4 linked regions of the Homo sapiens genome follow. The protein of the gene in region 3 interacts with the protein of the main gene of each other region in a pairwise test. Each region holds a gene or a part of one and is shown on either strand. Other genes may lie near its edges.

What was found.
Region 1: the proteins of ATXN3 (region 3) and SYTL5 interact in binary tests that used the Homo sapiens proteins (3 or more experiments, as listed by UniProt).
Region 2: the proteins of ATXN3 (region 3) and FYN interact in binary tests that used the Homo sapiens proteins (3 or more experiments, as listed by UniProt).
Region 4: the proteins of ATXN3 (region 3) and TEX19 interact in binary tests that used the Homo sapiens proteins (3 or more experiments, as listed by UniProt).

Annotation. Positions count from the first base shown.
Region 1 is NC_000023.11:38,001,952-38,009,568, reverse strand, and holds the start of SYTL5 (synaptotagmin-like protein 5), read right to left. Parts: upstream 3,017-7,617; 5' UTR 2,901-3,016; intron 1-2,900. UniProt on the Homo sapiens protein: May act as Rab effector protein and play a role in vesicle trafficking. Binds phospholipids.
Region 2 is NC_000006.12:111,660,436-111,667,469, forward strand, and holds part of FYN (tyrosine-protein kinase Fyn), read right to left. Parts: intron 1,513-7,034; coding exon 1,304-1,512; 3' UTR 1-1,303. UniProt on the Homo sapiens protein: Non-receptor tyrosine-protein kinase that plays a role in many biological processes including regulation of cell growth and survival, cell adhesion, integrin-mediated signaling, cytoskeletal remodeling, cell motility, immune response and axon guidance.
Region 3 is NC_000014.9:92,075,583-92,082,582, forward strand, and holds part of ATXN3 (ataxin-3 reference isoform), read right to left. Parts: intron 6,885-7,000; coding exon 6,718-6,884; intron 5,480-6,717; coding exon 5,383-5,479; exon of another isoform or gene 5,371-5,382; intron 3,887-5,370; exon of another isoform or gene 3,833-3,886; intron 1-3,832. UniProt on the Homo sapiens protein: Deubiquitinating enzyme involved in protein homeostasis maintenance, transcription, cytoskeleton regulation, myogenesis and degradation of misfolded chaperone substrates.
Region 4 is NC_000017.11:82,355,330-82,362,262, reverse strand, and holds the start of TEX19 (testis-expressed protein 19), read right to left. Parts: upstream 3,017-6,933; 5' UTR 2,978-3,016; intron 384-2,977; 5' UTR 113-383; coding exon 1-112.

The sequences.
Region 1 (7,617 bases), on a different chromosome or scaffold from region 3:
TAGATACATTATAATTAAAGAAATGAATGGACTTGGTAGTGGTTTGGATATTGAGAGCAAAGGAAAAGTTAGAAGCAAAATTGACTCCAAGATTTCAAATGTGAGAAACCAAGAGATCATTAATGCCATTCACAGAAACAAATGAAATGAAAGGGGAAGTGGTTTGACATAAAAGCTGTGAGTTTGGCTACAATCATGATGAATGTCGAGTGACCCTTGGACATACAAGTGGGAAAATGTATAGCAGATGGAAAAGATAAGATGTGGAAATGGAAGTCTTGGAGGTATCCACTTAGAGGTGATATTTAAAACTAAGGGTTGATAAGAAGTTATAGAGAAAGGCAAAACGTAATAGGTTATAGGCTAAATAAATGCTAAACCTTTGAGGGAAACCCAAACTTAAGGAAGAGAAAAGGAAAAATAGACAAGAAGGGAAGTGGTAGAAAAGCAGTTGAATAAATAGTATAGAGTCATGGACAAGAAGGAAAGAGAAAATTTAAGAAGTAGGAATTGATCATGTGTGTCACATAGAGCCAAGGGGATGAATAAAATGAGAATTTGGAAAAGTATTCCTTATAGCCCTTATCACACTTGTAATGAATTATTTGGGTGAGTTAACACCCTTCCTAACTAGACTGGAGATATATAAAGGCAGACTTAAGTGTTCCCTACTGTAACTTCAGTGCTCAGCAATGCCTGATGCATAGCTGTCACTAAATAAATATTTATTGAATGGATGAATGAATACATAAATAAATGAATGTACTTGAATTTCCTAGCAGCACTACAGGTGACCCTTGGAAGTACAGTGTCAATAAAGTGATGAAGATTGATTTTATGTCATAGGGGAATTTGAAAGAAAGATTTTAAAAGAGAAAGTGAGGCAGTAGGGTATGTTTTATTAATCACTTCTTAGAGAAATGTTTTTGTTAAAAGGAGAGAGAGACCAGATCAAGTGAATTTTTTATCCCAGTACACTACATGTTTATTATATTTTGTTCCTCTAGGAGCTCCTCCCTATTTTAGATAATCTTTCAGAACCTAAGGTAACCACAGCGGTTGCTAACTCTGCAAGTAACAGAAGCACCATCTGCTTTTTTGCTGTCTTCAGTAAAATCAAAAGTCCATGGGCTAAGCAAGATGGAAGATGTAGAGAAACAGAGGTCAAAGGAAATGATGATACTCCCCACAGAAAGAGATAACCAGGAATGGAACGAGGTTGGAGAGAAGTTTTGTGAAATCATGGAAAATGTGTGAATGTATATAGAGGGGTGAGAGAGAAAGAGGATGAGAGACCACAGACAAGTAAGATATGAATGTACAAAAGCATATTTACAAGTAGATTTTAAGTAGAATGTATTAAAGATGATTAGCTAAGTGCTTACGCAGGATGGCAAAATAGTCATAAGATACATCATCATATAATAGAGCTTAAGTAAAACGAACTGCTCATTTTACATATTAAAGCTACATTTCCTTTTCCTTCCCTTAACATACTAAATAATAATAAGGAAGTAATTTCAACAAAAATACTAAATGGGCCTCCAAAAGAAAAGAGGTAGAAGCTCAATAATTTTATTCACTAAACCTATCAGAAGACTTTAACAAATCTGAATAAATAGAAGGATAACATAGCTAATACCCAAACTTAAAATAGCAAAGAATTTCAGGAAATCATAAATACATAGAAAAAGCATGATTCAACAACTAAAAGAGCAGTAAGACATTTTCTCAGTTATTAGTTGCCCACATGTAAATATGCATGTATATGTGGGTATGTACATATATATACTGAGGGATGCAAGGACCAATTTAAGGATTTCACTAGAGTCCAAACAAATGGCTTCATGCATTTAAGACCTAGGGTATGAATTGTAACACTTTTGTGTGTAAGCTGTTGTCCAAATAACATATAAACAACTTATTACAAAATGAAAAAATTATATACTTAATTCCTGTGTTTAAAATACTTTTTAAGGAGGCTACTACTGAAGTAGTACTTCTAAATGCATTATTACATGTAAACAATATTTTATACTATTTTGAATGCTATAAATATATAACTCCTGTTTTCTCCAGGCATATGCTTTTCTCCAGGCATACACATATACTTGGAGCAAAGAGAAGTTATATATTAATAGTTGTAAAATTACGTTTTTCATTTAAATGAGGAAGACAGTATTGGTAATTAAAACAATCTACATTAAGGAGAAATTTTTTAAACCCTGATGCATCTTTTCAGAGTATATTAATGTTCACAGTTAATATCGCATTTCTGTAAGCTGTTACAGTATCATATTCATGTTGAAATTATTCCAGGTTTTTCAGACTTTATTAATCCTTCTACTGAATTTATATCCATACTGGATATTTGTCCATATCAAAAATGGAACTGAATGTAAAAACAATTAAATAATTCCAAATGAAACATCTAAATTTTCTAATAAATGAAAGAAATTCAGAGCAAAAGGACAATCTATGTTATATAGAGATGTGAGAGGTTTATATAGAGAGGTGTGAGAGATTTATAGCAAAATGATGCAACACTTCTGCTGTGAATTTGATTTTTTTATGTCACTAGAATGCATATTTGTTCCTGGAGGCACTCACTCTTCAGTAGAACCTAGTGCAATGCTTCACTTCATAGATAGAATCAAGTGTTAATAACAAAAAGATACTTATATTTCTCTCCTCAATCCATTAAACTCATAGCTACCAATGGCCAAAATGTCCCTTCTGTACATATTTCTCCCTTTTTTACTGTAAAATACAATATCAAATGGTGGAAGGAGCTGTTTTCTTCCTGACCAGCAAATCCCACTACTCCCCTACCACACACAAAATACAGAAATTAAGAAATCAGATATCACACTGGAGATCCCTAAACGCATTAGTCTTACCTTAATCTGAAGGTTAGAATGTTTTTATGGGCTTATTTTTCTCTCAAACACACAAACTGTAGAATGCTGGACTACTTGACCCTTGTGAACTACTTGGAGCAGGAACTTGAAAAACCAGCCTCTCATATTCCCACAATCTATTTACACATTGAACACACCCAGTAGCACAGAGTAATGTTTATCTGTTGCAGACAGCTATTTCAAGAAGAAGGCAGTATCTCTAAAGCTGAGCTTTCAAAAAGGAATGTCTCTGTTGATCAGCAGGGGAAAGGTAACAGGTTTCATCTAAAGCACATTTTAAACATTTTTTGACATGAGGTATTTTTTACACCAGTGTTTTAAAGGTGATTCACTCTTTTAATATTCTTCTACCCCTGAAAATCTCTATTCTTAAAAAACCTGGGAGAAACGTGATAACAATGAACACATATGTGCCAGGCACTGTTGTAAGTGCTTTACATATATCCTCTCCAATAATTCTCCAAATGTGTTAGGTGTATAATATTATTATCCCCATATTACAAATGAACAAACTAAGTAGTCTGCCCACAGTCACCCAGTTAGTAAGTACTGGAGTCAAAAGTTAAATCCAGGCACTCCATAACCATAGTCCAGGTATCTAATCATAGCACTGTGCTATGTATGTATGACTTTTAGAAGACAAATGTGTAACAGTATGTGATTGCTCAGCTGAACATTAGAGAATGAGTGAGGTTTTCTCAGTGCTTGTATGGTACTGAATCTTTAGTTGAAGTAAGTGAAATTTTTGTTAAGATCACTTCTGCCAAGGTGATTACCCATTTATGTTACCATAGCCAGGTCCCTTTTAGCTACAGTGGGGAACCCCAAAGGTGGTGTCCTGGAGAATCGAAAACGTGAGTCTAGCTTGAAGTACCAAGAGAGTTATTACTTTCTTATGTTAAAAAACTCATACAAAAGAAGTCAATACAACACCTTTAAAAAGTTTAGAGATACATGTTTTGTTCCATTTTTTTCAGATTGGATGATTACTTTTGATCTGTCTTCAAGCTCATTTGATGCTAGCCATCTCCAAACTAATGTGAGCCCATCTAGTGTGTTATTAATTTCAGTTACTATAATTTTTTAAGCTCTAAAATTTCCATGTGGTTATTTTTATAGTTTCCATTTCTCTGCTGAAATTCACTATCTGTACATTTATAAAGATCATATTTTCCTTTCATTCTTTGAACCTATTTTCTGTTTGTTCTTTGAATACATAATAATTGATTTAGTCTTTTTCTATGAAGTTTAACAACTGGACATTTTTGGGTCTGTTTCTACTGATTTTATGACAATAGGTGATATTTTCTTGTTTCTTTGCATGTTGAATTTTTTTATTGCATATTGGACAATGGGGATCATATAGTGTAAAGACTCTGCTATCTCCCTCTGAGGAGTATTAATATTTGTTCTATTAATATTGGCATTTCCATAGAATTGGTTTGGTTTTGCTAATGTAGTTATGCAGAAAGTCTAAGGTCCTTTCCAAGCCTGATGAATTTGGGAGATCAACCTACAAATTCTGTCTCCCCTGCAGATCTTGTAAGGGCTGAGTTTTAGGATTTTTTATTTGTAATTTTTATGGAAAAATAGTAGGTGTATATATTTATGAGTTACAGAGATATTTTGATACAGGCTTGCAATATATAAAGATCACATCAGGGTAAATGGGGTATCCATAGCCTCAAGCAATTATCCTTTGTGTTACAAACAATACAATCATACTGTCTTCATTATTTTAAAATGCACAATTAAATTATTATTTTTACTATAGTCACCCTGTTGTACTAAGAAATACTATGTCTTATTCATTCTTTCTATTTTTGTACCCATTAATCCTCCCTACTTCCCCCCAGCACCTCACTACCCTTCCCAGCCTCTGGTAACCATATTTCTACTCTCTATCTCCATGAGTTCAATTATTTTCATTTTCAGCTCCCACAAGTAAGTGAGAATATGCAAAATTTTTTTTCTGTGTCTGGCTTATTTGACTTAACATAATGACCTTCAGTTCCATCCATGTTGTTGCAAACGACAGAATCTCATTCTTCTTTATAGATGGTAGCACTCTATTGTGTATATGTACCACAGTTTCTTTATCCATTCATCTGTTGATGGACATTTATATTGCTTCCAAATTTTGTCTATTGTAAATAGTGCTGCAGTAAACATGGGAGTGCAGATATCTCTTGAATATACTGATTTCCTTTCTTTTGGGTATATACTCAGGAGTGGGATTGCTGGATCATATGGTAGCTCTATTTTGAATTTTTTGAGGAACCTACAAACGGTTCTCCATGCGATTGTACTATTTAAATCTAAGACCTCAAACTATGAAACAACAAAAACAAAACATTGGGAAACCTCTCTAGCACATTTGACTGGGCAAGGATTTATTGAGTAATACCCCACAAGCACAGGCAACCAAAACAAACAGTGACAAATGGGATCACATCAAGTTAAGAAGCTCCTGCATGGCAAGGAAACAATCAACAAAGTGAAGAGCCAACCTACAGAGCAGGAGAAAATATTTGCAAACTACCAATCTGACAAGGGATTAATAACCAGAATATATAAGGAGCTCGAATAACTCTATAGGGAAAAATATAATGATCTGATTTAAAAACTGGCAGGGGATCTCAATAGACATTTCTCAAAAGAAGACATACAAATGGCAAAAAGGCATATGAAAAGGTGCTAAATATCAGTGATCATCAGAGAAATGCAAATCAAAACTACAATGAGATGTCATCTTACTCCAGTTAAAATGGCTTATACCCAAAAGAGAAGCAATAACAAATGCTGGTGAGGATTTGGAGAAAAGGGAACACTTGTACACTGTTGGTGTGAATACAAATTAGTACAACCACTCTAGAGAACAGTTTGAAGGTTCCTTTAAAAACTCAAAATATGAACTTAAAGTAGTTTTTTCCAATTCTGTGAAGAAAGTCATTGGTAGCTTGATGGGGATGGCATTGAATCTATAAATTACCTTGGGCAATATGGACATTTTCACGATATATATTCTTCCTACCCATGAGCATGGAATGTTCTTCCATTTGTTTGTATCCTCTTTTATTTCATTGAGCAGTGGTTTGTAGTTCTCCTTGAAGAGGTCCTTCACGTCCCTTGTAAGTTGGATTCCTAGGTATTTTATTCTCTTTGAAGCAATTGTGAATGGGAGTTCACTCAGGATTTGGCTCTCTGTTTGTCTGTTATTGGTGTATAAAAATGCTTGTGATTTTTGTACATTGATTTTGTATCCTGAGACTTTGCTGAAGTTGCCTATCAGCTTAAGGAGATTGCCAAGTCAATCCTAAGCCAAAAGAACAACACTGGAGGTATCACGCTACCTGACTTCAAACTATACTACAAGGCTACAGTAACCAAAACAGCATGGTACTGGTACCAAAACAGACATATAGACCAATGGAACAGAACAGAGCCCTCAGAAATAATACCGCATATCTACAACTATCTGATCTTTGACAAACCTGAGAAAAACAAGCAATGGGGAAAGGATTCCCTATTTGATAAATGGTGCTGGGAAAACTGGCTAGCCATATGTAGAAAGCTGAAACTGGATCCCTTCCTTGCACCTTATACAAAAATTAATTCAAGATGGATTAAAGACTTAAATGTTAGACCTAAAACCATAAAAACCCTAGAAGAAAAACTAGGCAATACCATTCAGGACATAGGCATGGGCAAGGACTTCATGTCTAAAACACCAAAAGCAATGGCAACAAAAGACAAAATTGACAAATGGGATCTCATTAAACTAAAGAGTTTCTGCACAGCAAAAGAAAACTACCATCAGAGTGAACAGGCAACCTACAGAATGGGAGAAAATTTTTGCAATCTACTCATCTGACAAAGGGCTAATATCCAGAATCTACAATGAACTCAAACAAATTTACAAGAAAAAAGACAAACAACCCCATCAAAAAGTGGGCAAAGGATATGAACAGACACGTCTCAAAAGAAGACATTTATGCAGCCAAAAGACAGATGAAAAAATGCTCATCATCACTGGCCATCACAGAAATGCAAATCAAAACCACAATGAGATACCATCTCACACCAGTTAGAATGGCGATCATCCAAAAGTCAGGAAACAACAGGTGCTGGAGAGGATGTGGAGAAATAGGAACACTTTTACACTGTTGGTGGGACTGTTAACTAGTTCAACCATTGTGGAAGTCAGTGTGGCGATTCCTCAGGGATCTAGAGTAGAAATACCATTTGACCCAGCCATCCCATTACTGGATATATACCCAAAGGATTATAAATCATGCTGCTATAAAGACACATGCACACGTATGTTTATTGCAGCACTATTCACAATAGCAAAGACTTGGAACCAACCCAACTGTCCAACAATGTTAGACTGGATTAAGAAAATGTGGCACATATACACCATGGAATACTATGCAGCCATAAAAACCAATGAGTTGATGTCCTTTGTAGGGACATGGATGAAGCTGGAAACCATCATTCTCAGCAAACTATTGCAAGGACAAAAAACCAAACACCACATGTTCTCACTCATAGGTGGGAATTGAACAATGAGAACACATGGACACAGGAAGGGGAACATCACACTCTGGGGACTGTTGTGGGGTGGGGGGAGTGGGGAGGGATAGCATTAGGAGATATACCTAATGTTAAATGAAGAGTTAATGGGTGCAGCACA
Region 2 (7,034 bases), on a different chromosome or scaffold from region 3:
CAGAGTTGCTAGTCAGTATTAAAAACTCAATAGAAATAGGATTTTTGATTTGTTGTTGTTAAACATATGTAATTTAAGGTTGGTACAAACAGCAACTAAAAATGTAATACTTTTTTGTTTTTGTGCATCCCCATGAAATGTAAAGTAGTGCATAGTTATTCCACTGGAGAACTCCTGGACATATAGAAAGTCATTCGTTAGCAGTACAGGACATTTAAAACACTTATTTTACAATGGGAAATGTACAACCCCCACCCTCATTTCCCCCAGAAATTTTAGTTGCATGAGAAAGTTTAGCGGGTTGCCATGACTACAATGCTATGGGTTTTAGATCACTTAAATGTGGTTACAGGTTTATTAAATTAAAAATGTCTGAAACATTTCAGCATTCATATTTTTATACAAGAAGTTTGTGTGGTATCCATCTTCCAGTTCTCTTGGTAGTATCAGCCATTTGCTTGCTTATTTTTAAGTTTTGAGAACAAATCGCAGTAAGTTGAAGCAAATAGTGCTAACAGAACTTGTAAATTCAGCTTGGGGGGTGGTTCCTGAAAAGAGTCAAAGTAACAACCACCTACAGGTACAGTCATGAACCAGGAAAGTGCAATCCAAATGAAAAAATTCATGCTTTGCAAAAGCCAAAAATGAGGCCACTGGTGTTTTCAGAATAACACCGGTGCTTTGATGCTGACTTGCAGTAAAATCCTCCCTCTGGGTCCCGCAGCTTGGTGGCTCAGGCCGGCCACAGTCTCCACATTAGCACCCACATTGTATATGTACAGGGACATATATATTATATATATTCATATTTATAAAAAAGAAAACAAAAACAAACACCTGTCCTGATTGGTTTTTGTTAAAACATGAAAAAAAATTTTATTGTTTTAGACAAAGAGGCCACTTTTGGAAAATAATACTTTTTTTTTTTTAGTTGAATCAGGTGAAGACAGAGTTAAAATCACATAGGATTTGCATTTTTAAAAAAGGAAAGCACTAGGATTGTTGGCACTGGAGTAACTATTTACACTGAACAGAGGTTTGGCCTTTTACATAACATCGATACAATGCATTTTCCAAAGTCTGAGAAATAACAAGGTTCTGTCTCGAATGCTTCACAGAGGAGGTTCGGATTTGGGGACAAGTGTCATTAATGAGGGCCATGGAAGTTCGTCAGCTTCAGAGTCACATGCAATCTGATCCTGGGCGGTTCCGCTGCTGGGGAGCAGCTGGCTACGGAATTGAAAGCTAATGGGGAGGGGTGGGGCAGCCTCTGGGACAAGGCCTCTCTCCGCAGACCCGGGCCTTACAGGTTTTCACCAGGTTGGTACTGGGGCTCTGTCGCGGTAAAGTAGTCTTCCAGGAAGCTCTGCAAGTACTCAAAAGTGGGGCGTTCTTCAGGGTCCTTTTTCCAGCAGTGGATCATGAGCTCATGCAGAGAGATGGGGCAGTCCTGCGGGCAGGGCATCCTGTAGCCTCGCTCCACCTGCTCCAGCACCTCCCGGTTGTTCATGCCTGCAAAGACAAGCGCAGTGAGAGTGGGCACCCCGGGGATCCAGGCCCTGACCGCCGCACTTGCAGATCCCCTTTCTTCTTCTTTGCGTCTGCATGTGGCTAAAACATGCGGAGTACTCCCATCCCCCCAGGAGTCAAACCCTGCCATGCTACTCAGGAGTAAAGAAGGAGTGCAGAACTGAGACATGAAAAATTCAGAATGACTCTCAAAACATGATAAGTGAAGGAAGCCAGACACAACAGGCAACATACGGTATGATTTCATTCATGCGAAATTCTAGAAAAGGCGCAACTACATCTATAGAAAGCAGATCAGTGGCTGCCTGGGGGAGGGGAGGAATCCCTGCCAAGGGGCCAGAGGGAACTCCAAGTGGGATGGGAATGTTCTGTCAGGGTCAACGGGTCAACAAACTTTTCCTGTAAAAGGCCAGACAGTAAATATTTTTGGCTTTGCGGGTCACATATGATCCCTGTCTTCTTCTTTTTAACAACCCTTTAAAAACGTACAAAACAAACACAGGTTGGGAGCCAGACCTGCCAACCCCTGTTCTATATTATGTATGGGGTGGTGTGACTGTTTATGTTTGTCAAAACTCAATAAACTGCATCCTTAAAATTGTTGAATTTTATTGTGTGTAGATTATACTTCAATTAAACTGACAACAATATATGAATAAAGCAGACAAAAAAATCCACACAGAATGAAAGCATGCTGCCCCTTGTTTATAGCATTTATAAACTCCATTTATGAACTTCATAAATTCGTTTTCTTCATGCCTGGGCAAACTCTTAGTTCCCCACTGTTGGAGATCTGCCATCATGCCAGCGTGGCTGGGCACTGTCTGGCCCTGCAACCCCACAGTGCCCTGAGGTTTGGTGAATTTGATGGGGAGATAGACCATGTCCGGGGCCTATCTCTACTGATGACTTCAGCCAGGCCATCCATCATTTGAGGTTTTTCTGACTCTTGGGAAGCTGTTGAAACACTGGGCTGCATAGCACTAACAGAAGACAGATCGCTAACTCCTCAGAGAGTGCGGCCTCCTGCACACTGGCTGCCTTAACACTACAGGAACTACCATGCTTAGGGGGTGGCCAGTGTCCTGACCTCCTCCCAACTACTGCCAGCCACTATTCTCTAGTTTTGCTTCCCTTTTTCATTGTATCACCTTCTGCCAGCTCCCCGTCAAGCTGTGCTGTGCTTTGGTTGCTTCCTGGCCGGTGAGGCTGTCATCTGGAATCCTCCCCAGTATCTGACCCGGTTAATTTGCAGGAGCAAGAACCCGATGTCAAGCCATATAGAAACCAAGATTTCTTCCCCTATTTCCCAGGGCTACAGCCAGCAGGAGCACACACCATATGCATGGAGCTTCCTTTACTTCTAGGGGAGGTGGCGACCCGTTAGCTAGAAACTTGTCAGCACAGCCAGAGGCGCTGGGCCAGAGCACAGCCTGTCCCCCTGCAGAGGGAACACTCGGACTTCGGGGTCTGTTGCCAGTCCTCTTGGTTGTGTTGTTACTTGTGGAGCTGAGTGTATCCTGGCTCCTCCTGGCTGTCAACCACAGCCTGTCAGTCACATGTCTCTCCAGACCTTTTCAGGATGCTTTCTTATTCTCTGCCATTATCATTTCTTGAGGTAATAAAAATTCACATATTGTTTCTGCTGTACTGAAGTAGGCCTTCAATGCAATTATTGTAAAATAACCTCACTCACGTGTCAGGGCGACCCCTTATTTTAGGGAGAGAGGTTTGGTGAAGGAGTCAGGGTCCCTGCCTCTGTGCCATGCATGCCTTTACCAGCGACTTCCTCAGTTGCATGGGAGGAGTGAGAGGCAGCGCTGTGGCTAATTAGCCTACATCCTCCTCCAATGGCTGAAAATGGGGGATGGGGGCGGGGAGCTGGAAGCAAGGGAGGAACTGGAGCATGCTCGGGAATGAAAGGCAGCCTCCTCCGGCTCTAGATAAACGCGGACAGAGGCCAGCATTTCCTTCTCCACAATTCCACCATCCAACGAGCTCTGAACACCATCAAGTTTTTGTAACTCACTTGACTACAGAACTGATCTGAACTGACCTCATCTGGCCACAAAACCTGAACTGATTACGAGGCTATTTACTGTTTTTATTTCTTCATACATATTGCCCAGAAAGATTAGGAAGAGTGTGTAATCACGTAGCAGAACTGGCACTCTCCAAAGCATTTGCCTTGCCGCATCTTTTAGTACTGTCCTTGGTTTCATATTTCAGCAATGACAGAGCTTGGACCAGCAGAAATCTCCCTTGTCTCTGTCCCTTCCAGGAGTCCACAGGAACTGAGGGGAAACAGGCAGAAGGGCCTGACAGATCCTTCTGGGTGCGGTTACAGCCCCTGAAACGCCTCCTAATGCTTGACTCTGGCTCTGAGTGCCTCCCTCCAAAATGGCAGCACAGAGTTTAATTAATCACTCTCCTATTGCTCCACAGAGCGCATGTCAGTACATGTTTCATTTCATTAAAAAACAAACTACTCAAATGGAAAGATTTCACTTAAAAAAAAAGTTTTCATCCAATGTCTGCCAATGGAAAGTTTAATTGGCCACTGGGTCATTTTTCCAGTGCTCGGTCCAAGCCTCAGACACAGCACACTTGGTGATGTGAACCTCAACATGTAGCGTCTCCCGAGGCAGTCTTTCCTGGGCATTTGGAGCCAGGGGACAGGGCATAAGCTGGCCCATGCAGGGTCCTGGCAGACCCACATGGTCAGGCTCCTTCTCGCTCTCCCCTTTCCTGTCTGCACCCCTCCGCTCTTCCCCACTCCTCTTCTTCTCCTGCTTTCTTCTGCCCAGACCTCTCAAAGCAAGGGGAGTATATGAAAACAATTCCACGCACTGGGCCAAGTGGAAACATACCAATGAGGGCTTTGCCAGGAAAGTGGGATATTTTGACAATGCACTTGGCTGACAATGACAATTGGAATGGGACTAGCTCTTTTCCAACCATCCATAAACCAGGACCTGCAACGGGCTGACCTGCAGACCTGGCAACTTCACAATGTACCTCTGCAACAATAACGGTGGCAATCAAGATATGCCCACTCAGCAAGGCTTGGGCTAGTTTTTATTTTATAAACAATAGCTAAATTGAATGGATTGTGTTAATTCAGGGTGAGTATCCCTTCTCTGAAATGCTTATGATCAGGAGTGTTTTAAATTTCAGATTTTTTAGGATTTTGAAATATTTGCATTATAGGGCTGCTCAACCAGTAAGTTGAGCATTCCCTTTGCGTGTTATGTCAGTGCTCAAGAAGCTCCAGATTTTGGTGCATTTTGAATTTCATATTTTTGGATTAGGGATACTTAACCTGTATTTAAAATACAGTATTCTCAGCTATATGAATTTTGAAAATCATGGTTTTTTTAAATAATTTTTTTTAAATGGCTTTTACTCTGCACACTAACAAAAAGATAGGTCTACTTCATTTTTTTCTTCTTAGATGGTTTCATATTTTTGTTAGAAAGAAAACTGTCATTTCCTCTTTTTAGCCACTTTTCCCCAAGACATTGGCTTTACCTAATACCTGAGAGGTGAAGGATAGTGAATAGGAAGGGAATAAACACGAGTTTGGGCACCAGGGCAGTTGGGAGAGTGTCTTGAGAGACATGGGTACACTAGAGAGAGGAATCCTTTTATTTTTTATTTATTTATTTTTTTTTGAGATGAAGCGTGGCTCTGTCATCTGGGGTGGAGTGCAGTGGTGTGATCTCGGCTCACTGCAGCCTCCACCTCCCAGGTTCAAGCAATTCTCCTGTCTCAGCCTCCTGAGTAGCTGGGACTACAGGTGCATGCCACTACACCTGGCTAATTTTTTATATTTTTAGTAGAGACAGGGTTTCACTATGTTGGCCAGGCTGGTCTTGAATTCTTGGCTTCAAGTGATCTGCCCACCTCGGCCTCCCAAAGTGCTGGGATTACAGGTGTGAGCCACCATGCCCAGCCAGAAGAATCTTTTTATTACACTTCCAACTGAGGAGGTGGACAAGAGTGCTGGAAATGTTTTTCCTTTTTCTCCTTTTTTTTTTTTTTTTTTTTTTTTGAGACAGAGTCTCGCTCTGTTGCCCAGGCTGGAGTGCAGTGGCACAATCTCGGCTCACTGCAACCTCCACCTCCCTGGTTCAAGCAATTCTCATGCCTCAGCCTCCTGAGTAGCTGGGATCCTTTTTCTCCTTTCTTAACAGAAAGAAGAGACAGAAACTTTATAAAACATGGTGTCTGAGCACATTTTAGGGAAACAATGTCATAAACAGTTTGGCCTTCCAGGTTTCCTAGTGGGAGCTGCAAGGGAGAGCATTTTTCAACAGGAGGGGAGATCCTGGCTGGCCAGTGGTGTCTGACTGTGGGAAGAGCCACGTTCGAGCAGTATGAATGTTCCCTGGTTCCCACAGAGAGGCGGCTTGGGGCTGGGGAGCCAGCAAGCACAGAGGCCACTGCCCAATTTTGTTCCAACCCTCTCCTCCTCTGCTGTTCTGCCCTTCTAGCCTCACGGGAGCCACCAGCCCCTTCTGCTGTCTCTCTAGAATTGCTCAGGAAAACAGGCCATTGTGGTGGGTCACTTTCATAGGGTACAACTGAACAGTACTCAATCCATAAAACACCTCCAGCACTTCGGGAAGCTGAGGCAGGCAGACCGCTTGAGCTCAGGAGTTCGAGACCAGCGTGGGCAACATGTTAAAACCCTGTCTGTACAAAAAGTACAAAAATTACCTGGGCATGGTGGCATGTACCTGTGGTCCCAGCTGTTCAGGAGGCTGAGGTGGAAAGATTGCTTGAGCCCAGGAGGTTGAGGCTGTAGTGAGCTGAAATGGTGCCACTGCACTCCAGCCTGGGTGACAGAGCGAGACCTTACTAGTCCGCTGTGTGGGGGTCTGCCTTCGAGTCCCTCTTTCCCAGAGCCTCCATGGAACATCTCCTTGTCAACTCAGATTTTAGGCTTTCAAACATGGTCCCCGACATAGCATCATTTCCAGTCAGTCTGCCCCAAACACTGCAACTGAGATTCTCCAGCCAAGAAGACTGTGCTCACTTCCTGCCATTATGATTATATTATCCTTTCTAAATCATGTTGCTGGCTTCCTCCAGCAAACTCAGAGGTCAAGTTTCCAACTCTCACTTTCAAACTCTGACTCTGTAGGGTTGCCAACAGTGTCTATTCTTGTGTGTGTGTTTTCTTTTCCCTTTTCTTTTAAACTTCCCTATTCCACTTCTTTGAGCTGTACATGAACTCAGTAGTCTTCCCTTTTTCCTTTTAGATTCTTTGAAAAAAAATTTTTTAAGGGACAAGGTCTTGCTCTGTCACCCAGCCTGGAGTGCAGTGGCATGATCATGGCTCACTGCAGCCTTGAACTCCTGGGCTCAAGCGATCCTCCTCACACTTCAGTCTCCCAAGCAGCTAGGACTATAGGTATGCACCACCATGCCTGGCTGATTTTTATTTTTATTTATTTTTTTTTTGTAGAGATAGCATCTTGCTATGTTGCCCAGGCTGA
Region 3 (7,000 bases):
ATACTCAAAAAGGGAAAAGAAAAACTAGAAAATCGTATGAATAACAAATCAGCACCAGGGTCAATTTGGGAAGGGTGAGAGGGAAGAAAGAGTTAGCTTGATAACCTTAGACCCAAGCTCCCAAAGACAGAACCTAGAGAGACAACGAACTACCTAGGCTAAGTAATCAGGAATTTTAGTGAAAGGCAAATATTAGCTTCTTAGCTCCTACTAATGAGCTCTACAAGGTTTTGAATGCAAGCCATTGTTAAAAATGAACATCAAGAAGTTAGTTCTTAACTCTTCTCAGCAACATGTGACTATGTAAGATATTCTCAAGCTCTTTCCAAATTCTCACCAGTATTTGCAAAGTCAAGCCAAGAGGCTGAAGCTGGTAACCATCACTGCACACTTTCCTCCTCAATCAATCCTCCACCAAGTAGGAAGGAGGTATATCGATATTCGAACATTTTTAAAAGGGTACAAGGTTGCCTGACCCTGTTTACTAAAAAGCACTAGTTATTGCTGACATTGTACTTGTTATAACTTACTTAGTCATTATTGGACATTACTGAATTATCGTTACTACTATAAAAAGTTCAGGCCGAGTGCAGTGGCTCATGCCTGTAATCCCAGCATGTTGGGAGACCCAGGCTGGCAGATTGCCTGAGATCAGGAGTTCGAGACCAGTCTGGCCAACATGGTGAAACCCCCTCTCTACTAAAAATACAAAAAAATTAGCCCGACGTGGTGGCATGCGCCTGTAATCCCAGCTACTTGGGAGGCTGAGGCAGGGGAATTGCTTGAACCAGGGAGGTGGAGGTTGCAGTGAGCCGAGATCGCGCCACTGCACTCCAGACTGGGTGACAAAAGCGAGACCTCGTCTCAAAAAAGAAAAAAAAAAAAAAAAAAGCTCAATTTGTTGGAAGTTTCATATTTTTAATCCAGTTTTTAAAAAATTTTAAGTAAAAGAGCAGTTTATTTTTATGCTTTAAATATACTTTTCTTTTCTTAGATATACCTGTAAATTTTGTATTATAGTTTCTCTATGATGTATGTCTTTAGACCATTTTATTTTGACAAAAAAGACTCTGATGGCTGGGCGCGGTGGTGCACGCCTGTAATCCCAGAACTTTGGGAGGCCGAGGTAGGCAGATTGCCTGAGCTCAGGAGTTCGAAACCAGCCTGGGCAACATGGTGAAACCCCATGTCTACAAAAGACACAAAAATTAGCCAGGCATGGAGGCACTTGCCTGTAACCGCAGCTACTTGGGAGGCTGAGGCAGAATAATCGCTTAAACTCAGGAGGCGGAGGTTGCAGTGAGCCGAGATCATGCCACTACACTCCAGCCTGGGTGACAGAGTGAGATTTCGTCTCAAAAAAAAAAAAAAAAAAAAGTCTGAAATAAACATGGTGAAAGTATCACATGGGAATTATTCTGGAAAGCAATTTAGAAATCTGTTCCAAGGCCTTAAAAATGTTCATATCCTTTAACCCAATAATCTGACATCCTCAGAAAAACTAGAAGAAATGATAAGACATTTGAGGTGTAGAGGCAATATAAGAATTGTTCATTGCAATATTAATTATAATAGCAGAATTCAAAAGGCTCACATATAAATTATGCCACATCCATTCATTTTATGAAATATCATGCAGCCTGTTACAAAGACTATTTACTGTCATAGGAAATGAGTACAACACTTACAAGGTAAGTGTGTATATGTCACAGAAAAAGAATGTGCCAAAATACTAACATCAGTCACTGAAGGAGGTGAGAGTATGCTTTCTTTTTTTTTTTTGAGACAGAGCCTCGCTCTGTCGCCCAGACTGGAGTGCAGTGGTGTGATCTCTGCTCACTGCAAGCTCCACCTCCCGGGTTCATGCCATTCTCCTGCCTCAGCCTCCAGAGTAGCTGGGACTACAGGTGCCTGCCACCACACCCAGCTAATTTTTGTGTATTTTTTAGTAGAGACGGGGTTTCACTGTATTAGCCAGGATGGTCTCCATCTCCTGACTTCGTAATCTGCCTGCCTCGGCCTCCCAAAGTGCTGGGATTGCAGGCATGAACTACCGCGCCCAGCCTTTTTTTTTTCTTTTTGAGACAGTATCTCGCTCTGTCACCCAGGATAGAGTGCAGTGGCACAATCTCGGCTCACTGCAACCTCCACCTCTGGGTTCAAACGATTCTCCTGCCTCAGCCTCCAAAGTAGCTGTGATTACAGGTGTGCACCACCATGCCCAACTAATTTTTTTGTATTTTTAGTAGAGACAGGCTTTCGCCATGTTGGCCAGGTTGGTCTTGAACTCATGGCCTCAAGTGATCTGCCTGCCTCAGCCTCCCAAAGTGCTGGGATTACAGACATGAGCCACTACGCCTGGCCATGTATGCTTTAATTTCTATATTTCTTTTCTCTTTTTTTTTTTTTTGAGGCGGAGTTTCACTCTGTCACCCAGGCTGGAGTGCAGTGGGGTGATCTCAGCTCACTGCAACCTCTACCTCCTGGGTTCAAGCGATTCTTCTGTCTCAGCCTCCTGAGTAGCTGGGATTACAGGTGCCCATCATCATGCCTGGCTAATTTTTGTATTTTTAGTGGAGACAGGGTTTCGCCATGTTGGCCAGGCTGGTCTTGTACTCCTGACCCTCCTGACCTCAGGTGATCCGCCCACCTCAGCCTTCCAAAGTGCAGGGATTAGAGGCGTGAGCCACCGTGCCCAGCCAATTTTGATATTTCTTAAAATAAAATTTTTAGAATGTTAGTTTTTCTAATTAAGTAGATTTAAGTTATTTTTTATTATTTATTTATTTATTTATTTGAGATGGAGTTTCACTCTTTTTGCCCAGGCTAGAGTGCAATGGCACGATCTCGGCTCACCGCAACCTCGCCTCCCGGGTTCAAGTGATTCTCCTGCCTCAGCCTCTCAAGTAGCTGGGATTACAAGCATGCGCCACCACGCCTGGCTAATTTTTTGTATTTTTAGTAGAGATGGGGTTTCTCCATGTTGGTCAGGCTGGTCTTGAACTCCTGATCTCAGGTGATCTGCCCACCTCAGCCTCCCAAAGTGCTGGGATTACAGGTGTGAGCCACCGCGCCTGGCCTTAGATTTATTTTTTACATTAACTAGATAATTGATGATATAGAATTACAATTAATTATTATGATTATTATTTTATGACAATAGCATTTAACTATGTTAAAAATAAAGCTAATATATTTTAGAGACACATATTAAAATGGTTATAGAATAATATGATGATTGAGATTTGTTACAAAATAATCCAAACTTGCAGGTGGGACAGTGGAAAGAATGGGAGATGGGAGTATTATAAAACGAGATTGGGCCGGGCTCAGTGGCTCATGCCTGTAATCCCAGCACTCTGGGAGGCCGAGGCAGGTGGATCACTTGAGGTCAGGAGTTTAAGGCCAGCCTGGACGACATGGTGAAATCCCGTGTCTACTAAAAATACAAGAATTAGCCAGGCATGGTGGTGTGTACCTGTAATCCCAGCTACTTGGGAGGCTGAAGTGGGAGAATCGCTTGAACTCAGGAGGCAGAGGTTGCAGTGAGCAGAAATTGTGCCATTGCACTCCAGCCTGGGCAACAGAGCAAGACTCCATCTCAAAAAAAAAAAAAAAAAAAAGCAAGATTGGCCGTGTGCTAGTATTTGTTGAATCTGGGTCATAAACAGGAGTATGCTAGTTTTTCTACTTTTGTATAAATTTGGAGTTTATTATAATAAAAAAGTTAATTTTGAAACTTAAAAGTAAAAAGCACTAATAAGCACTACTTTGAAATTTAACATATAATTAGCCATTAATCTATACTGAATAAAGACTAGAAATATCTCACATTAAGAGGATGTCAGCTGATCAGAATTTTCCTTCATCTACTTCTGAGTTGTGACTTAAAAACAAAACAGAAAAAAAGGTAAATATTTTCTTCATTATACCATCAAATGTAAAATGAGCCAATATTTATAGGTGCTGCTAATATACTGTCAATTATGACTGTAAGATGCTTCTCAATTTCAGAGACATTGAAATGTGAAACTATGTGCATCTCAGAATGGATGAAATACAGCAAATAGTAAGTCAGATTGAGCTATGACTCTGTTTTCTGACCTAGGATCAGTGGGTCTGATTATTTATCTTGTAATCTTTAACATGAAGTTTTCTTTCTCTTTTTTTTTGAGACGAAGTCTCGCTCTTGTCCCCCAGGCTGGAGTGCAATGGCGTTATCTCAGCTCACTGCAACTTCTGCCTCCCAGATTCAAGCGATTCTCCTGTCTGAGCCTCCCAAGTAGCTGGGATTACAGGCACCCACCACCATGCCCGGCTAATTTTTGTATTTTTAGTAGAGATGAGGTTTCACCATGTTGGTCAGGCTGGTCTTGAATTCCTGACCTCAGGTGATCCACCTGCCTTGGCCTCCTAAAATGGTGGGATTACAGACGTAAGCCACCGTGCCCAGCCTTTTATTTTTCTTTAAAAAAAAAAAGTGGGGGACAAAAGTCTGAATGATAGTTACTTGAAAAGAATGTATTTTCATATGGTGGAATTCCTATTTAGCAAGCACTTACAAGGCTGGGCACAAGGTAAGGTTTTAGGAGTTGATCCAGATTTATGGTTTGCATCCATTCCCCTGATGCTAACAGGCTTACAGGACTGCCTGAAGCGGCCATGAGCAGCTAAATGAACTACCACGTCTATTTGGGAATGCGCTCCCATACCTCCAAAGCTGTTTTTCGTACTGATTGGTAGAGGAATTTTGCAGGGTTAATCAGGTAAGCAAGAAGTACATCCAAAGGATCAATTGGCATTCTTCTTGTCTTGTCCTAATTTCATTTTTCTTTTAATAAATGAAATTTTATAAGGTTTCCTTCACTCAGTTTAAAAAATTTATCCAGTATTGGGGCAAGGTTTTTTTGTTTCATGTTATTTGCCGTAAATTTTTATTTTTATTTATATATATATACATATATTTTTGGAGACGGAGTCTCACTCTGTCACCCAGTCTGGAGGGCAGTGGTGCGATCTCGGCTCACTGCAACCTCCACGTCCCGGGTTCAAGCAATTCTCCTGGCTCAGCCTCCCAAGCAGCTGGGACTACAGGCGCACGCTTCCATGCCCAGCTGATTCTTTTGTATTTTTAGTAGAGATGGGGTTTCACTGTGTTGCCCAGGCTGGTCTCGAACTCCTGACCTCAGGCAATCTGCCCGCCTTGGCCTCCCAAACTGCTAGCATCACAGGCGTAAGCCACCGTGCCCGTCCTATTTGCTGTAAATTTTTAAAAAATACATTCAAATATTCACAGGATTCAGGCAGTAACCATTTACAAATAGACAAAATAGCCAAAGCAAATATTAAACATGCTACTTTAACTTGTACCAACTACTTTACTTTTCAAAGTAGGCTTCTCGTCTCTTCCGAAGCTCTTCTGAAGTAAGATTTGTACCTGATGTCTGTGTCATATCTTGAGATATGTTTCTGGAACTACCTGAAAACAAAACACAACACAACAAAAACCAATCACTGTATTTACCAATTCAAGCAACAATATGTTTGTTTATACTCATTTGAGTAAGCCTTTAAAACGTTTTCTCTTTAAGAATATTCTACTCTTCTGGCTGGGCGTGGTGGCTCACACATGTAATCCCAGCACTTTGGGAGGCCAAGGCAGGTGGATCACCTGAGGTCAGGAGTTCAAGACCAGCCTGGCCAAAAGGGCAAAACCCTATCTCTACTAAAAGTACAAAAAATTAGCTGGGCGTGGTGGTAGGCGCCTGTAGTCCCAGCTACTCAGGAGGCTGAGGCAGGAGAATCGCTTGAACCTCGGAGGCAGGGGTTGCAGTGAGCCAAGATCACTGCACTCCAGGCTGGGCGACAGTGAGACTCTGACTCAAAAAAAAAAAAAAAAAAAAAGAAAGAAAAAAAAAAAAGAAAGAAATCTAAAGCTGATTTCTGTCCCTGCTAATCCAGCAGGACTCTATTAATCAAAAATGGGATTGCACACCATATGGAGTACTCAGAGGCATGCATAGAGGCAAGAAAAGTTCAGGATAAAAATAATCTTCCCATTAATGAAATTTCAATTTTATTTAGATATCTAAGGAAATCAACTGATAAATAATTTCATTAGAAAGTAGAAGCAAATACATATGAGTTAGAAAAAAATAAAACAAAAAACCCACTTCAAACTTTTAATTAAGCTACTTTGAGCTATGTCTTAACATTTTTCTTTGCCTAGATTGTCTAGGGGATATGTTTTCGCTTTTCTCTATTGATAGTTTATATCACTAAAAAACTGGGCCCACCAAAGTGGGCTTACGGTTTAAGTTGCATAGCCAATAAATGTTGGGTTTTTGTAAAATCAGTTTATATTCCCTGTCCAGGCCCTTCCATAGTGTCTAATGGCACATATTTATGTAACAGCTGATTTGGATAAGGGTCAACTGATACCCACAAAGATTAAAACCACAATTTACTATTGTGTTAGTACAGTGTTGAAACCAAATAAAATAACCAGGAGTAAAAATATAACTACTCCTAATAAAATATAGGTTGTAAAAAGTGATTTCCATTATAAGAAATCTAAAGGGAAAGCCCACTATATAGCTATTGCTTCTGCAGTAATTGTCAAAACACCTCTAAGAGTACATTAACTTCCATGAAATCTAAGAATAATTGGAATCAATTCTTCAGCAATGAATACAACACACATCAGAATGTCTTTACCTTGCATACTTAGCTGAATAGCCCTGCGGAGATCTGCTTCCTCATCTTCCATGTCAATTTCTTGGCGACTTAGTGCCAGAGCCCTCTGCAAATCCTCCTCATCTTCGTCTAACATTCCTGAGCCATCATTTGCTTCTAACACTCGTTCCAGGTCTGTTTTATGGACTCTAAAGAACAAAAGCACTGGTAATAACTGCAACCAATCTTCTATTTTAGACATAACATAAAGGCATTTGTAATGTAAAGGCTTTAAGTAAGTCAAAACTTAAAATGTTTTCTGGCA
Region 4 (6,933 bases), on a different chromosome or scaffold from region 3:
AGCAGGTGAAGCAAATGCTTAGCTGATCTCCATGTTGAAGCTGATACATCCAGGAGGCGTAGAGGTAGGACATGCCCTCTTCCTCATACCGCATGCTGACCGGAGGGCACATGGCCAGGCTGCCTGCCTACTGCCGGGGTGGACAGCAAGAGCTGGGCCTTCAGAGGATCTTGGACGGTCTGGCCACAGGTGCTGAGGCCAGTAGGATGCTGGGCGGCAGGGATGAAGGGGACAAGGAGCAGGAGGAGAAAGGGGTTTCCTATCCAGGGATTTGGGGTGGGGTGGATGACCTGGGTCCCAGCTCAGTGGGGACCTGCAGAGGGTGGAAGCTTGAACTTCTGGAAATGTCTTCAGCTTCTGCAGTTGCTGTGGTCTCAGGAGAGCTGGAAAGGCAAAGGAAGGGAGGTTAGGCACCCCCAGCAGGCAGGGTGGGGGCAAACTGTGGGGACCAGCAGGGGCAGGGATGTTGGGGTTCAGACTGGCCCTTTAGTGGGGACCCTGCTCAGTTTGAACAGCACCGGGGCTGGGAGGCCTTCAGTTCCTCCATCCGACCTCCCCGGGCTCATCAGCCACCCCCTACACCTCAGGGACCCCAACAGCCCATCAGCTTCACCTGACAGAACCTGGGGGAACATGAGGGAAACTGGCAGAGCCTGAGGGGACCTGATGGAAATTGAGGGAACCTGAAGGAAACTGGGGGAACCTGAGGGAACCTGAGGGAAACTGGGGGAACCTGAGGGAAACTGGGGGAAACTGAGGGAAACTGGGGGAACCTGAGAGAAACTGGGGGAAACTGAGGGAACCTGAGGGAAACTGGGGGAAACTGAGGGAACCTGAGGGAAACTGGGGGAACCTGAGGGAAACTGGCAGAGCCTGAGGGGACCTGATGGAAATTGAGGGAACCTGAAGGAAACTGAGGCAACTTGAGGAAACCTAAGGGAAACTGAGGGAAACTGGGGGAACCTGAGGGAAACTGGGGGAAACTGAGGGAAACTGGGGGAACCTGAGGGAAACTTGAGGGAAACTGGGGGAAACTGGGGGAACCTGAGGGAAACTGGGGGAAACTGAGGGAACCTGAGGGAAACTGGGGGAACCTGAGGGAAACTGGCAGAGCCTGAGGGGACCTGATGGAAATTGAGGGAACCTGAAGGAAACTGAGGCAACTTGAGGAAACCTGAGGGAAACTGAGGGAAACTGGGGGAACCTGAGGGAAACTGGGGGAAACTGAGGGAACCTGAGGGAAACTGAGGGAACCTGAGGGAAACTGGGGAAAACTGAGGGAACCTGAGGGAAACTGGGGGAACCTGAGGGAAACTGAGGGAACCTGAGGGAAACTGGGGGAACCTGAGGGAAACTTGAGGGAAACTGGGGGAAACTGAGGGAACCTGAGGGAAACTGGGGGAACCTGAGGGAAACTGGGGGAAACTGAGGGAACCTGAGGGAAACTGGGGGAACCTGAGGGAAACTGGGGGAACCTGAGGGAAACTTGAGGGAAACTGGGGGAACCTGAGGGAAACTGGGGGAACCTGAGGGAAACTTGAGGGAAACTGAGGGAACCTGAGGGAAACTGGGGGAACCTGAGGGAAACTTGAGGGAACCCGAGGGAACCTGAGGGAAACTGGGGGAACCTGAGGGAAACTGAGGGAACCTGAGGGAAACTGGGGGAACCTGAGGGAAACTGGGGGAACCTGAGGGAAACTTGAGGGAAACTGGGGGAAACTGAGGGAAACTGGGGGAACCTGAGGGAAACTGAGGGAACCTGAGGGAACCTGAGGGAAACTGGGGGAACCTGAGGGAAACTTGAGGGAACCTGAGGGAAACTGGGGGAACCTGAGGGAAACTGAGGGAACCTGAGGGAAACTGGGGGAACCTGAGGGAAACTTGAGGGAAACTGGGGGAAACTGAGGGAAACTGGGGGAACCTGAGGGAAACTGAGGGAACCTGAGGGAAACTGGGGGAACCTGAGGGAAACTGGGGGAAACTGGGGGAACCTGAGGGAACCTGAGGGAAACTGGGGGAACCTGAGGGAAACTTGAGGGAAACTGGGGGAAACTGGGGGAACCTGGGGGAAACTGGGGGAACCTGAGGGAAACTGAGGGAACCTGAGGGAAACTGGGGGAACCTGAGGGAAACTTGAGGGAAACTGAGGGAACCTGAGGGAAACTGGGGGAACCTGAGGGAAACTTGAGGGAAACTGGGGGAAACTGGGGGAACCTGGGGGAAACTGGGGGAACCTGAGGGAACCTGAGGGAAACTGGGGGAACCTGAGGGAAACTTGAGGGAAACTGAGGGAACCTGAGGGAAACTGGGGGAACCTGAGGGAAACTTGAGGGAAACTGAGGGAAACTGGGGGAACCTGAGGGAAACTGGGGGAACCCGAGGGAAACTTGAGGGAAACTGGGGGAACCTGAGGGGAACTTGAGGGAAACTGGGGGAACCTGAGGGAAACTGGGGGAAACTGAGGGGAACTTGAGGGAAACTGAGGGAACCTGAGGGAAGCTGGGGGAAACTGAGGGAACCTGAGGGAAACTGAGGGAAATTTGAGGGAAACTGGGGGAAACTGAGGGAAACTTGAGGGAAACTGAGGGAACCTGAGGGAAACTGGGGGAACCTGAGGGAAGCTGAGGGAAACTTGAGGGAAACTGGGGGAACCTGAGGGAAACTTGAGGGAAACTGAGGGAACCTGAGGGAAACTGAGGGAAACTTGAGGGAAACTGAGGGAACCTGAGGGAAACTGAGGGAACCTGAGGGAAACTGAGGGAAACTTGAGGGAAACTGAGGGAACCTGAGGGAAACTGAGGGAAATTTGAGGGAACTTGGAGAACCTTAGGGAACCTGAGGGAAACTGAGGGAAATTTGAGGGAAACTGAGGGAACCTGAGGAATCCTGGCCCCGCTTCAGCCTCCCAACCCCTCACCCAGCACCAGGCCGTGTCTCCGAGACCCCTCCTCAGAGACCCCTCCTCGGGAGATCTCACCATCCTGGTGTCTCTGTTCATGTGGGCACCCAGGGAAAGGAGGAGGCAGAGCCCATTTGGGTATATAAAGGGCCATTTCCCATGGTGCTCTGGGCTCATCTGCATATCTCCCATGAGCCTCAGTTTCCAGGAAATGAAAGTGCTGAGTCACCAGCTCCCTCCAAGGAGGGCCATGTGCAGCCCCTGGGCACCTGCAGGAAGGCCCTGGAGAGGCAGCTCCTCTGGGGGCTGGAGATTGGGGTGGGTGCTCTCCGTCTGCAGGCTGGCACAGGGTGAGCATCCAGCCTGTGGTTGCTGGCCCGTCGTGGGCACGACGTCCTGGTCCTGCCGCGTTTGTAAAACGTGATCCCTGCTTTGCTGTCTCTGTCTTAAAGTTCTCTGAATTTTAAGAACCAGCCAATTGTCAATTAGTTATTGTTTAAACACATTTTCCCCTTTGTGGTTCATCTCTTCGCTCTTTAAACAAGACGCTTATAAATTAACACTTGTTTTTTCAGTAGACTCTATTTTTTACAGCAGTTTTAGGTTCATAGCAAAATTGAGCCAAAAGCATGGAGCTCTCCCACCGCTCCCCTGCTCCTGCAGGTGCACAGCCTTCCCCAGTCCTCCCGTCCCAGCCATTTGTTACACGTTGTTATTATCATCATCGCCCTCTGCAGTTTCCATTATGCTTTCCTCCGGTGCTGTGCATTCTGCAGGTTTGGACACATGTATAATCATGCAGACCCACCACTCTAATATTGTACAGACGGGTTTCTCCGCCCCGATTCATCTGTGTTCTGCATTTTCATCACTCCCTCTCCCAGCCCCTGGCAACCAGGAATCTTTTGACTGTCTCCTTAATTTTGCCTTTTCCAAAATGTCACAGAGCTGGACTCATACATTATGTAGCCTTTTCAACTTCTTTTTTAGTAATACGCACTTTGGTTCTTCCATGTCTTTTGTGGTTTGATAGTTCACTTCTTTTTTTTTTTTTTTTTTTTTTTGAGACAGAGTCTTGCTCTGTCACCCAGGCTGGAATGCACTGGTGAAATCACAGCTACTACAGCCTCAACCTCCTGGGCTCCTGTGATTTTCTCACCTCAGCCTCCCAAATAGCTGGGACTACAGGTGCTGGTGCACACCCCGATAAGTTTTGTATTTTTTGTGAGACAGGGCCTCACCATGTTGCCCACACTGGTATCAAACACTTGGGCTCAAGTGATCCGCCTGCCTCTGCCTCCCACAGTGCTGGGATTACAGACGTGAGCCACCTTGCATGGCCAGCTCACTTATTTTTTAACACTGAATGGTATTCCATTGTCTGGATGTACCATGGTTTATTTATCCATTCACCTATGGAAAGACATCTTGGTTGCTCCCAGGTTTGGGCAATTATGAATAAAGCTACTACAAATATTCATGTGCAGGTGTCTGTAGACATAAGTTCTCAACTCATTTTGGTAAACTCTAAGGAGTGAGATTGCTGGATGCTGTGGTCAGAGTGTGTTTAGTTTTGTAAGAAAGTGACAAATTGTCTCACACAGTGGCCCTGTGGGAGGAACCCCCAAACCCTTTCCCTACATCCCCATGACCTCTGCTCCTCCCCACCTGGCAGCTGTCTGTGCCTGGCTCAGGTCATCCACACACCTGGGGCTGCCTGCCACCCCCACCAGGTTAGGGCTCAGATCAGGGCCACCCCTCACCCTGGGGCTTCCTCGTCCCAGTCCTGGGATAGGGGCAGGTGTGGGGCTTTGGCTGCCAGGTGTCCTGCTGTGGGTGGAGAGGGCAGTGAGCTCATTCCCTAAAGACTCGGGTGCCTGAGCTGTCTGGCTGGTCCCCTCAGGTGAGAGGAAAGTAGTGGTTGAGGGACCCCACAGAGAAGCCTGTTTATGGGTCTGGGGGTCAGAGGCTCCCGGGAGGAGCCCCCAGGTCCTGGTTTTCTCTGAAAAGGCCACTCAAGGCCTCGGGGCTGAGCTGTGGCTGCCCTGGCCAGAAGGGGGCCGGGGAGGGAGCCCTGCACCTGTCGTGAACACTCAGGGCTGGGCCAGTGGGCGCCTGGAGGATGAGGTCCCTCCCACCTGGCCCCTCCCAGCCTCAGTTCTCAGGACACAGCCCAGCCGGCAGCTGCCAGAGTCACTGCCTAAAGGAGGTTTTGACCGAGGAGCAGCAGAGCCCTCTGAGGGCCCCTGTGGTAAGCAGGCTCCTCGCTGGTTTGCATGGCTTTTTCACACAGTAGTTGCGTCGAGAATTTAATATGCTGCGACCTCGTTGCCAGCAGGAGCGGTGTGGGACCGGGAAGCTGACGGGGAAGTGTTGGCGGGTGCAGGGCAGCGTCCACTCTGGGAAGCTGTGGCCAGCGCGTCCTGGCCAGCCAGGGCCTGGGCAGGGACTTGCCTCTCGGGCCTCGGCCTCACCCTGGTCTGAGAGTGTAGGACCCTCTCAAGGTCCTCAGTCACCTCAGCAGCCTGGGACGGAGCCTTTGGATCGCTTCCTGGGCAGCTGGGTACAGGAGAGGCCACTTGAGACAGATGTTGGGATGGACAGCTGGATTTGAGGCCCAGAGGGAAACCGTGGCAAGACTTGGTGGGTGGATGGTACCAGAGGAACAGGACGTGGCCATAATCGGGGAATCCAACACTCCTGTATCTCCAGAAGGACCAGGCATTTCCCCAGCTGCAGAGACCACTGATGGGGCAGCACAGCCATTGTGGGGCCAAGGCCATGACCCGGAGCCACTGGGGCCGTAAGCCTGACACCCAGATTGCCCACGAGCCAGAACCCCATCCCCACCATCCTGGGGTGCACAAGCTCTTGTGTTAGGAACGGGTGAAGAGGGGGAGCTCAGGAAGCTGAACGCAACCCAGAGGGGGTGGACAAGCAGGGACAAGGCTGCCAGATGGGCCTGGCCAAGCTCAGGGGCCCCCAGCTACCTCGGGGGTGCAGGTGCCAGCTGAGCCCTGCAGAGGAATGGGGTGAGGCCACGTCACGCTCTTTGAGCACCGGCTTCCGAGCTCAAGCGGCTTCGTCTCTGTCTCACCCAGAATGCCTCGCGCAGATCCGGGGCCCAGAGAACATTCCAGAGATGCTTGTGGAGTGGAGCAGCTTTAATAAGACACATTCTTGCTTCTCTGTTGGCTTCTTACCTGTGTCCTCGGGATGGCTGCCAAGGTGCTACCAACCTGCTGCATCCCTGGCTGAGGCTCAGAGCCTCCTGGGCTGGTGCCTTCCTGGGCACAGGATCCCCAGCAAGTCCAGGAATCTGACCTGAGGTCACCAATCATGCCCAGGGAAACCAGCCAGCCCCCAAAGCCTCCAAAACCCAAGTGGGCTTGGTTCTGTTGGCAGGTGACCCAGCTGGAATCAAACAAGAAAGAAAAGTGTGTTTAGATCATCAGGTGACTCACCAAATAGAACTTTCTTGAAAACTGTTTAATAATCAAGACCAGGAAAAGATTATGGAATATTCTAGCAAAGTCCAAGTACTTGGATTTTAAAATCAACATTTATCTTACTGCTCTTATATTACAAAGTTCCGCCCTCACCTCCAGTCTCAACGTTTGCACAAAGCATTTCAGCAGCACATGCAATGGCGTTATGGTTGGCTTTTCCCTCTCGCTCCTCCGCACAGCACTGAAGAAGGACAGGAGCAGTTTTCTTTGTTTCTTGCATGAATTTACTACTGAGGCTCGTCAGAGAGAGGCTGCCTGTGGGAGTGATGCATGGCCTCTGCTTCCACGGAGAAAAGCCACACGGTGGTGGCCAGGGGTGGGATGCGCCCGTGGACATGGAGGACAGATGTGTTCTGAGAAGCTGCCTGTTTCTTTTGTTTGTTTTTGAGATGGACTTTCACTTTTGTTGCCCAGGCTGGAGTGCAATGGCGCGATCTCAGCTCACGCCAACCTCCACCTCCCGGGTTCAAGTGATTCTCCTGCCTCAGTCTCCCAAGTAGCTGAGATTACAGGTGCCTGTCACCA